Regions from separate parts of the Homo sapiens genome. Here all the other regions are linked to region 1. The links come from fine-mapping of genetic effects on gene expression. A gene starts in region 1. Each other region holds a variant in brackets. All regions are shown on one strand. Distances are from middle to middle.

Evidence for each region. PIP is the estimated chance that this variant, and not a neighbour inherited with it, causes the effect.
Region 2: its variant is fine-mapped to the expression of TREML4 in spleen (GTEx, PIP 0.98).
Region 3: its variant is fine-mapped to the expression of TREML4 in whole blood (INTERVAL, PIP above 0.99).
Region 4: its variant is fine-mapped to the expression of TREML4 in whole blood (INTERVAL, PIP above 0.99).

What each region holds. Positions count from the first base shown.
Region 1 is chr6:41,227,154-41,229,839 of GRCh38, reverse strand. TREML4 (triggering receptor expressed on myeloid cells like 4) reads right to left here and starts at 1,491. Exons shown (of 6, transcript NM_198153.3): 1 at 1,350-1,491; 2 at 796-1,126; 3 at 269-319. The coding sequence starts at 1,412.
Region 2 is chr6:41,331,360-41,334,045 of GRCh38, reverse strand. No RefSeq gene overlaps it. Among named protein-coding and RNA genes, the nearest start is that of NCR2, 2.9 kb to the left of the region's middle. The variant C/T (reference allele first, on the strand shown) is at 1,558.
Region 3 is chr6:41,313,943-41,316,628 of GRCh38, reverse strand. No RefSeq gene overlaps it. Among named protein-coding and RNA genes, the nearest start is that of NCR2, 20 kb to the left of the region's middle. The variant C/AC (reference allele first, on the strand shown) is at 1,423.
Region 4 is chr6:41,202,243-41,204,928 of GRCh38, reverse strand. No RefSeq gene overlaps it. Among named protein-coding and RNA genes, the nearest start is that of TREML2, 2.4 kb to the right of the region's middle. The variant C/G (reference allele first, on the strand shown) is at 1,375.

The sequences.
Region 1 (2,686 bases):
CACACGTGTGCAAGGTGTTCCATATGGACTTCCCTCTGGGGACACCCTCCCATCATCGTGAGAACATGGCGATCTTCTGATCACATCAGATAGTGCATGTTTCTCTCCCTAAGAGACAGTGGGCCCTGAAGGTAGCTTCCCACAAGCCCAGGCCCCAAGAGATCAGTCCTCAGAGGCAGGCCTCCCTGGTTTCCCCTTCCCTGAATCTGAGGCTCCCAAGCTGCCTGGTGACCCTTCTAATCTTCCCCCACCGAGGCCTCCAACCTACCTGTGCTTGTTGGGAGCCAGGGAAGAGTCCACATAGGAGACGTGGTTGGGGCTAAAGAGAAAAGACAGCAGACAATGACTCTCCAGGGGCCCAGAAGAGAGTAGGGTCTACCCCATACATAAGAGGAGGTAGGGGCCCAGAGCCAGACCCTCAGGATGTCTTAAGCCAGGAGTGGTCTGTGCCTAAGATCTGCATGACAGAGTTGTTGGTGTGTGTGTGTTAGTGTGTGTGTGAAAAGAAGAGTTGTGGGTGTGCCTGTGTAAGACAAAGAGAGACGCAGAGTGACAGACAGACTGTGTCTCTGTCCAGGGACCTCTGAGGGTACCTTCCCAACAATTGAGGCCAGGATGTACCGGGTGGAGGAGAGGTGAGAGTCCATGTTTGGGGACAGGATCTTTGCTCCCCTTGGACCACAGCAGAATACCTGGCAGGATGGGGGATGATAGAGGCATGGGAGGGGGTGCATGACATTTCCTTCAGGTCCCTGGGGGGTGGCACAGAGGTATTTCCTCAAGAAAAGAGCTCACCTGGAGACACCACCAGGCTGATATTTCTAAGAACAGTGATGATGTTTTCGGAAGCGTTGTAGATTCCACACCAGTAGAATCCCGAGTCATTCTGTGTCAGCTGAATCATGGTGATGTTGAAGAAGCCAGCATTGGGCTTGTCCCAGATTGTGTAATGAGACTTCTGAACTGCTGTCCAGGGCTTGGAGCTGGTGACAAGTAAGGTACACCGACTTGGAGATGTCTGCTGACACCAGGATTTGGGCTGATAGGGCCCTCTCTTGGGTGAGTACTGGCATTGCAGGAGGAGGGTCTGTCCTGGGTGTTTGTGAAGTTCTTCAGGCACAGCACCCTTTACCCAGGAACCGGCAGAAAGAAACCCAGGTCAGAGCTCTGAAGGGACCCAACCTCCCCCATCACAGGCTGGGGAAGGGGAGGGGGAACTAGTTCTGATGCCCACACATGGAAGAGGGCCCCTAAATTCTGTCCTATGGTCACACAGCCATGCTGCTCCCTGCCCCACTCATTCTTCATCCCACTCCTTACACCCCCTGCACTCTTTCCCTCCATGTCACCTGAGGCCAGGAGCAGCAGCAGCACAGGTGGAAGCAGCAGGTGTGGACCCCACCCCAGGCCATTCCAGCCCAGATCTGTTTCTGACAGCGGAGGAGAGGAGAAAAAAGGGAGCCCTCTCAGGAGGAGTCAGACGCTGGGTCTGATTCTGCCCCAGGTTCCCAGTGTCTCTCAGCTGGTAAAATTGAGGAAGTCAATGTCTTGCTGGGGAAATGGTCGGCCTGGGAGGGCGGGCTCTGCAGACCAGGGGAGGAGGGGCAGCCAGGCCTTGAAAGGGGCCACCAGCTACAGGGTCTGTCTCTGGGCCTGGGCACCTCAGCCCTGCTGTGTTGCTCTGCCGCCTTTCACTGAACTTCTCCCCATGTCTGCTGCTTTATGCCTTCCAGCCAGTCATACTGCTCCTCTATTGCTAGGGGCAGCTCTCAGCATGGCCAAGAATAAAGCTGGTGAATAAAGCTGGGGTCATCCCTCTTTCCTTCTCTCTGTGCACTTCCTATAGGTGGTCAGGGCCCTTGGAGGCACGACCAGACCCCTGAATCCTTCTGGTCTAGCCATGGTGGGTTGATGATGAGTTTTGACCCTGAGACATTTTGTAGAGGGCAGATTTTAATCCCAGGAATTACAAGATGTTCCCTGGAAATGGTGGGGCCAGGAAAGCAGGGAGGAAAGAGAGTGCTGGTCAGGGAAAGTTGGAGGGGAAGGCAGGTAGGAGTGGATCAGTTATGGTAGCTTGGGATCATCTCAATCAGTGCTTGTTGGATGAATACATCAGTGGATGAAAGAACAACGCGTGTGTAAAATGTACAGAAAAAGAAAATGGCCGAAGTGAGAACTATCTAGCAACAAAACCAAGTGGTACTGGATTACTACCCAATGTATATATTAAATCTCTAGGAGTCCATGCTGATGTAAGTAAATGACTGAATAAAGAACTGGGGGGGGGAATAGACAAATATCCCATGCATAAGGATTCTGCTGTGTTCAGAATGTTGTTCCCCCATCTCATATATTCAAACTTAATTTCCATGTGATAGCGTTAAGAGGTGGGATCTTGTGGGAAAATCTTAAGTCATGAGGGCGTCATCCTCAAGAATGCAATTAATGCCCTTATACCAGAGATTGCAGGAAGCAGATTTGCGCTGTCTGCCATATGAGGACAGTGTTCATGCCTTCAGTCAACTGAGGTTACTGCAAGAAAGCACCACCTTGGAAGCAGAGAGCAGCCCTCAGCAGATACCACATCCACTGACACCTTGATCTTTGACTTCCCAGACTCCAGAACTTTGAGAAAGAGATTTCTATTATTTAGAAAGTCTCCAGTCTAAGGCATCTTCTCATA
Region 2 (2,686 bases), 100 kb before region 1:
AGAGCACCCCTTGCTATGTGCCACTAGCTGTGTGTCTCTTCAGCCTGCAGCCAGCTCTGTATCGTTCTCTGCTGTGTCAGAGTGTGTCGTCTCTCCCCAGGGGACAGGAGCTCTCAAAGCGGGGAATCTGCCCCTCTCTCTGTGTTGTGGCTTCCCCACCTGTGTGAGTGGGGTGGGCACCCTCCACATAGACTTGGGGCCTTGAGCACCCTAGGGGGAGGCCCCTGCTGGAACCATCTGCACGCTCAGCTTCCTCTGGCATCTGGGACCTGGGGGCAGGGAAGCCTGGGCTTAGGCAGCCCCTCATCCAGGCTGGGACTGGCCCTGCTCCCTGGGGACCCACAACAGCCCTTGTCACAAGTTGAATTTCTGCAGGAGGGACTGGGGCAGGTAGCTGTGGTGGGATCTGGGGCCCTTTCAGAAGTCTCTTGAAGAGCTAGGGATAGTGCCTCCCCCTTGGCACGATCAGAGCAGGGCACAGCAAAGTCCTGTCAAAGAGCCTGGGGTTCTGGGGGATTCTGGGTTCCCTGCCCACCCTCTGAGAAGGTCCCTCAGAGAACTTGGGAACCTCAGCAACCTCCTCTCCCAAACTCATTGTCACACACACTCACAGGAACCCAGAGAAGGAGCTGGGAGAGCTGGAGACTTCATGTACTTGCTTTTCTAGCAAGGCCCAGTCTAGCCTGCAACAGTGGCTCCGAGCCTGGGTAGGTCCATGGGAAGGGAGGGCTGGCCTCTGATGCAGAAATGGGGAAAGCAGGGAGCCGTAGAGGTCTGGAGGTGATCCCCAAAACGCAGCACAGGGCTAAGCTAGGCTGGGCAGGGGTGAAGGGGTAGCTGTAAATTTCCCCCATGATAGAACCAGAAGTAGCAGGGACAAAAGGGAATTTCTCTCAGTGCTGATTTCACAACTGAGGGAGATGAGGTCCAGAGAAGGCAAGTAGCCTTTCCACAGTCACTCAGCTATTTCAGGGCCAAACCAGGACTAGCACCCAGGCCTCCTCTCTCCTGACCTGGTGCTCCTCCTGGGCTCAGAGATTCTCCATGGGCACTTCCTTACTCTTCATCCAGGCTTGCCTTTTGCAGATCCAAGGAGTCTTCTCCCTGAACCCCAACAAGTCTGCTTATACCTCTGACCCCAATGGCTCTCTGCCCCAGCTCCAGCAGGATCCTTCAGTCATCAATTGCCCTGACAGGGTTATTCCTGCTCCCATGACAATGGTCCCATAACAATGGCCCTTCCTGGTCCCAGGATGCCAGGTTCAAAGCATCTGGTCTCAGAGCAGCTTTTTCCCTGCCAGAGAGGTCAGAGGGACCTGAGCTACTGCCCACACAAGGCTGCAGTCTGGGCGCACAGCTCCCTCACAGGAAGTTCAGGGTGGGTCAGGCACAGAACCAGGCTTCCACCCTAAGCACCCTGCGGGAGGCCTGGGCTCAGGGAGTGCAGGAAGCAGCCATCTCCCCAGCTGGGTTCTCCCTGCTTCTTCTCCTTCCTTACTCCATGGAACCAACCCCATCCTCCAACCCCCTCACCCCGTTCAGCCGCCCCCAGGGCCC[C/T]GGTCTCTGTGCTGCCTGGTGCTGTCAGCCCTTCATGTGCTCCCGAGCTGCAGGCTGGAGCAGGGGGAGTATGGCTGGGTTTGGCCTGGGGCCAGAGAGGAGGAGCGAAATGGAGCACAGTGGGGACAGCTGTGCTGGTAAAGGTGGTCAGCCTCAGAAGATGAGACAAAAATCAGGGGTAGGGTTAGAAAATTATGTTTAACATCGATTTCAATATCCTTTGGCCGTCATCTCTGTTTGCTCATTTGCTTATTACAGGCCAATCAAGATCCTTGCCTTTAAACTCTCAGGCCCTCACCCAAGTGCACCCACACTCACACAGACACTCACTCCCTCCTTCAGCACTCCCTCCTTCAGCAGACCACTCTGCTCCATAGAAACCAGCCCCAAGTTAGGGGGTGACAGAGCTGGAGAAGGGCAGTCCTGGAGAGGAGCAGGGCCAGGCGGTGCACACACTTCACGAACACCCTGGGGGCAGCAGCTATGGAGGTCTCTGAAGGCTTCAGCTCAGCACAGGCCGAGGGGCGATGCTCAGCTCTTGCCACTCTGGGACAGCTGAGATAATGAGTAAGGAAGGGGCCATCCAGTGCCTGCAGAAGACACCTACCAGTACCTAAATCCCTGCTGTGGTGGGACCCTCCCACATTGCTGTCCCCAGCCCCTCTGGAACACTCCCTGTGCATCTGATCCAACGCCCCAAACAGGGGAGACCAAACCCAGTTCAGCCTCTTTGCCCAACCTGAGAATCTTCCTCCTCCATGATCTCCCCTCTTGCTTTAATTTCCCTAAATCACTCAGTCACCACCACGGCCAGCTCCGGCTCCCCTCTGTCCCCGCTCTGTTCTGCCAAGTTCAGGCTGCCCAGCTCAAACACGTATCTGCACATCTGCCCTTAGCTGACTCCTCCCTTCAGCCTCCACCTTCTCAGGGGCTCCTGTGGACAGCTCCTGGGGGAATTCTCCCTGTGCAGCATCTTGACAGGGCCCCAGCCCTTACTCTCTCCGAAGCCTACTGGAGATCACTCTGCAGGGAATGCATTGCAGGTTCCACAAGGCCTGGCCCGGTGTGGTATCCCATCTCTGCCACCTCCATTTCAAATGCACTTCTGCAAGCCAAGAGAAGGCCCTAC
Region 3 (2,686 bases), 87 kb before region 1:
CATCAAATTCTGGTCTTTGTTATGTCCTTGTAAATTGGATTGAATCCTAACATTTTCTAGTTTCACTAGAAACTAAAACTGCTTTTTTCCGAAGCCCTGCCAGCTGAAATTGGATGACTTTAAATTCAGAAAAATTACTACAACAGACCATGTATGGAAAATTTTCATGCTGCTGCTGTGTGGGTCACTTGGAGAATTCACTGGAACACCTGATGATATTTCCAGAGACATTCAAACTGCAAGCCAGGAAAATCCATCAGGTTGCAATTGCCATCCTCATTCCATCATCTAAAAATGCTTCAAACTCAAATTTAGAAATCTTGACAGGCTGCTCTCTGGACTTAAAGACTAAGATCATAATTTGTTCCTAATGTTAACCTTTTTTTTTTCTTTTGTTTTTATAGAATGCTACCTTGAATTCCCTTCAAGCAATACTATCTGAAATAAACAATTTAACCTCAATAGTACTCCAAAATAGAAGTCCTTGATACCTTAGCAACTTAACAAGGAGGCTCTTATTTGTAAAAAAAAATATTGTTTCTATATTAATAAATTAGAAATTGTTGAGCCCAATTTAAAGGATCTTAAGGAACAAATATGTCTTTTATCAGACAGGTGTTGCCTCCTCCACTGATTTATTTTATTGGTGAAATATTGGCTCCTGGGAATCTGTGCTCCAGGGAATTTAAAAATCCTTGGCTATTATTCTCTCTGTAGTCATTTTGTTTACCATCCTACTATATCTTATCCTCTCAAGGATTTCAAAGCTTTCCAGAAGGCACTCACACATCAAATGATTGCCATCATCATTAATTGACTTGAAGAACTCAACAACCCTACCACTGAAGCCCATGATGCAGGTAATGATGCCATGTAATCTTATATCCCAATACAACTGTTGAGGATAAGATTACATGACTCTTTGTTCCAGTGACTATTTCACTAGTGGTAACTGAGAGGAATGCTACCACCTTCTTCTTAGCTTGCTGAGAGGGTGACCCAACGCGGTGGGATTGTTAAAGTAAATTAAAATGGAGACCAGACCTGAAGAATCCCAGAGGGGACAAAAGAAGTTATGATTTGTAAGTGACCTAAACCTTGCTTGATTTGCAAACATAACCAAACTTAACTTGAGCTATTTCTTGTGAATGCCTATATATATCTATATCTATATATATATTTTTAAAAGCAGAACTTAAGCTCAACCAATCAGAAGTTACTATTTATACAAACTTAGATAACGAGGGGCTTTCCAAGTTGAGAGACCAAAAAAAGCAATTGTATAACAGTAACCAATTAAATACTTTGCTTTACTTCTGTGTCTGTCTTATAAAAGTCTCCTCTTTGTGTTCCTCAGTGGAGCTCCCAAACTATTTCTGGTTCGGAGCTGCTCAGTTCATAAATTGTTCATGCTAAAAAAAA[C/AC]TCACCAAAACTCTTTAAAATTTTACTGTGCCTCAGTTTATCTTTTTAACAGTTCAAAAAAGATTAAAATAAATGATAATTATATTCTGTCCTGGAGAAGTAGGGAAAAAGTCATTCTTATGCATTGTTGGAAGGGAATAATTGATAGCCTTTTCTTGGAGAGCAGTGGTGTAATGAATTAAAAGTCAGAACAAGAAAAAACAAACAAACAAAAGCACATGTTTTGGAACCAGCATTTCTAAGTTTTGTTTTTTTTTTTCTCAGCAAGTATTTTGTTGAGCATCTTCCTAAAAAGTCATGCCTGCAGCCTTTTTTTGCCCTGTATGGATGCACTGCCTCCACCAGTTGGTACACAGCTGTCTCTTCCTCATGTTTCTGGGGCTTCTCTTTGTCTCCTCTACAACGTTTTCTTGATTCTTGGATCTTTGTTTACTCCTTTGTACTGGTGGAACCCATCCTTGAGTAACTACGGGAGAAAGGGGGAATGGAAAATACATTTTGACAACTTTTATATTTAAAAATGCCTGTTTTACCATGACAGTTTGACTGATATAAAAAATTCTGAGTTGGAAACAATTTGTCCTCAGGATTTTGAAGGCATTGCTATGTTACCTTCTTGCTCCTATTGTTGTTGAAAAGTCAGGAGCAATTATGATAACTATGGCAATATGTGATCTGTTGTCTTCACTTTATCAGCGTTTTCTTTTTGTTCTCGGTGTCCTGGAATGTCACAGGGATGAGCCTTGGAGTGTGTCTATTTCCATCCCTTTGCTCCGCACAGTGAGTGGCCTTTTCGATCTAGAAATTCACAGGAAAATTTCTTGAATTAGTTCATGCATGATTTTCCCCTCTCTGTTTTCTATGTTCTGTCTTTCTAGAACTCCTTTTATTCAAGCATTCACCTCCTGGATCAGTTGTCTTTTTCTTTTTTTTTCTCTCCCATTTCTCTGTTGTTCTCATTCTCTCTCTGCCTCCCTCTGTTTTGGAAACAGCCCTTGGAGAAAAAGTTTTCTGTTTTTATTTATGGTTCCTTAGGTGGTCTCTGTTTCTTCCCAGTTGCCTTCACTATTCTCTGTTTAGTTTCTTTCTTCTCTTTCACTTGAGAGCTTTTTCTCAGGCCTGGGTAACAAAATTCTAAAGATAATTGGATGCTGTGAGCCCACAGTGGGGCTGGTGCCCTGGGAGTTTCACAGGAGGGTGACTCCTTGGCCATTTGCTTGAGGAAGTGCCTTGTCAATATCATTCAGCCTTCTCTCTTGGGCTG
Region 4 (2,686 bases), 25 kb after region 1:
CATTGCTGGAGAGGGTGTAAAATTTGCAGCCACTTTGGAAAACTATTGGTAGTTCCTGAAAATGTTAAACATAGAGTTGCCATATGACCCAGTAGTTCTACTATTGGTTATGTACTCAAGAGAAATGAAAACGTATGTCCACACAAAAACTTGTACATGAATAGTCATAGTAACACTGCTTATAATAGTTGAACAGTGGAAACAAATAAAATATTTGTCAACTGATAAATGGTAAACATATATATCCATTCAGTGGAATATTATTCAGCCTTTAAAAGGAATGATGTATTAATACAACGTATAGCACAAGTACAGCTACAACATGGACAAACCTGGAAAACATGCCAAATGAAAGAATCCAGTCACAAGGAACACATATTGTTCAATTATGTTTTTATGACATATCCAGAATTGATAAAGGCATTTTTGATTGAAGATATTTTTGTCTAGAAAGACAAAAATATTAGTGGTTGCCTGGGACTGTAGGAATGGGGACTGTGGTAAGCTGATAAATGGTCTCTTAAAAGATATCTGTGTCCTAATCCCTGGAACCTGTGATTGTTACCCTTATATGGCAAAAAACAAAAAAAAAATGATCTTTGCTGATATGAGTGAGTTAAACATCTTGAGATGGTGAGATTATCCTGGATTACGTAGATGGGAACTAAATGCAATCACATGTATCCTTATGTAAGAGAGTCAGAGTGGGATTTGAACACAAAGAGGAGAAAGTGATGGGAAGATGGAGCAGAGGGAGACTGAAGATGCTGGCCTTGAAGATTGGAGTAAAACAGCCCCAAACCAAAGAATGCTGGCAGCTACCTGAAGCTGGAAAGGCAAGGAACAAATTTTTCCCTAGTGTCTCTGGAGAGACTGCAGCCCTGTCGACATCTTCATCTCAATACAGTGTGAACTGACTTCAGACTTCTGCCTTCAGAATGGCGAGACAATAACTTAATACTGTTTTAAGCCACCAAGTCTGCAGTAAACGGATCCAGGGAGTGCCTGCTAACGGGCATGGGGTTTCTTTGGGTGGGGAAATCCTGCAAAATTGGTGTTAGTTGTACAACTCAGTGAATATATTGAAAACCACTGAATTGTATGCTTTAGATGGGTCAGTTTTATATTATGTGAATTATAGCTCACAGAATTGTTGAAAAAAGTCATTGTGACCTTGGGTTAAGCAAAGATTTATTAGATATGACATAAAAATTGATTCATAAAAATTATATATTGGACTTCACCAGAATAAATCAACATAAAGTGCTTCACTTTTCCATTCTGGAAAGAGAGAAATGACAGGAAAAAACCCCACCAGATCAGTGTTTGTCTGGGACTGAAGGGATGACTAACAAGGAGCAGAGGAAAGCTTTT[C/G]GGGATGATGGCACTCTTCTCTGTCTCCATTACGGCATTGGATACAAGTCTCTAGAACTCCCAGAACTCGTCACTGAAAAGGGTGAATAGTACTGTATGTAAATTAGGCCTTAATTTTTAAATGGGAAAAATAAATATAAAGACAAAATACACTGCTGTATTAAATCAAATGATAGATGTAAAAGTCTAATGTATACGTATTTTTAATGATTTTGACCAATGCTTCCAAATTTCTCTTAAGAAAGATTGAATCCAGTGCATACTTCCTCGATCAGCGAATGAATGTTTGATTCTTTCTACCCTCATCAGCACAGTGATCCCAAGGGTCACACTTTAGACGATGATTGGCTCAGTGCTGGGCGCACTGTATCAGTTTCATAGAATCATGGATTCCAAGCGCATAAAGTCCCCACAAGAGATAAATCCCCCACTCCTGAAGCAACTTACTGTTCTGATGGGGGAAGGGATGGAGGAACTTACTGTGTGTGCTGGGGAGGGGAGATGGCCCCTGAACTCAGGGAGCTCAGGAAGTTCTGAGGACTGGGTGAGAAACATTGAAAAAGGAAGGGTGAATAAGGAAAACAAAACACGTCTGTGAGCTGAGAGGTCTCAAGTGACAATCGTGTCTCATTCCTACGCCCCCAGTGCCTACCTAGCCCCATGCATAGCAATGAGGTTGTGGGAATGAACAAATGAATGAATGAATTAATGAGTGAGTGAATGAGTTGAGAGACTACAAAAGCTTAGGGTCAGCCGAGATAGACTTCTTTGCTTGGAGCTTGGGGCTTCAAGGTCAATTTAAGATTGTGGCCATGCAAGCTTGAGGACTTTTTGCTCTGAGTCCTGTTAAAATTAATGAAAATGGAGACCAGGCCTGAAGAGTCCCTGAGCAAAAATTAAAAAAACAGTTAGGCCTCATAAGTGACCTCAACTTTGCTTGATTTGCAAATATCAGTGAAACTTAACACGAGCTATTTCTTGTAAATGTGTATATTAAGGAAAAATAGAACTTAAGCTCAACCAATCAAAAGAAACTTATATAATTAACTAGGGTCTTTCCAACAGGATAGGCCAAATAAGGGAACTATATAACTATAACTAATTAAATATTTTCTTCAGTTTACTTGTCCTGTAGGAGTCTTCCCCTTGCATTCCCCCAGTGGAGCTCCTCAACCTCTTCTGTTTGGAGCTGCCTGATTCATGAATTGTTGTTTGCTGAAATAATCTGTTTAAAATTTTATTGTGCCTCAGTTTACCTTTTGACAGTCCCATCTAAGGAGTAGAAACATGGCACTAGTGAGTAGGGGGAGCA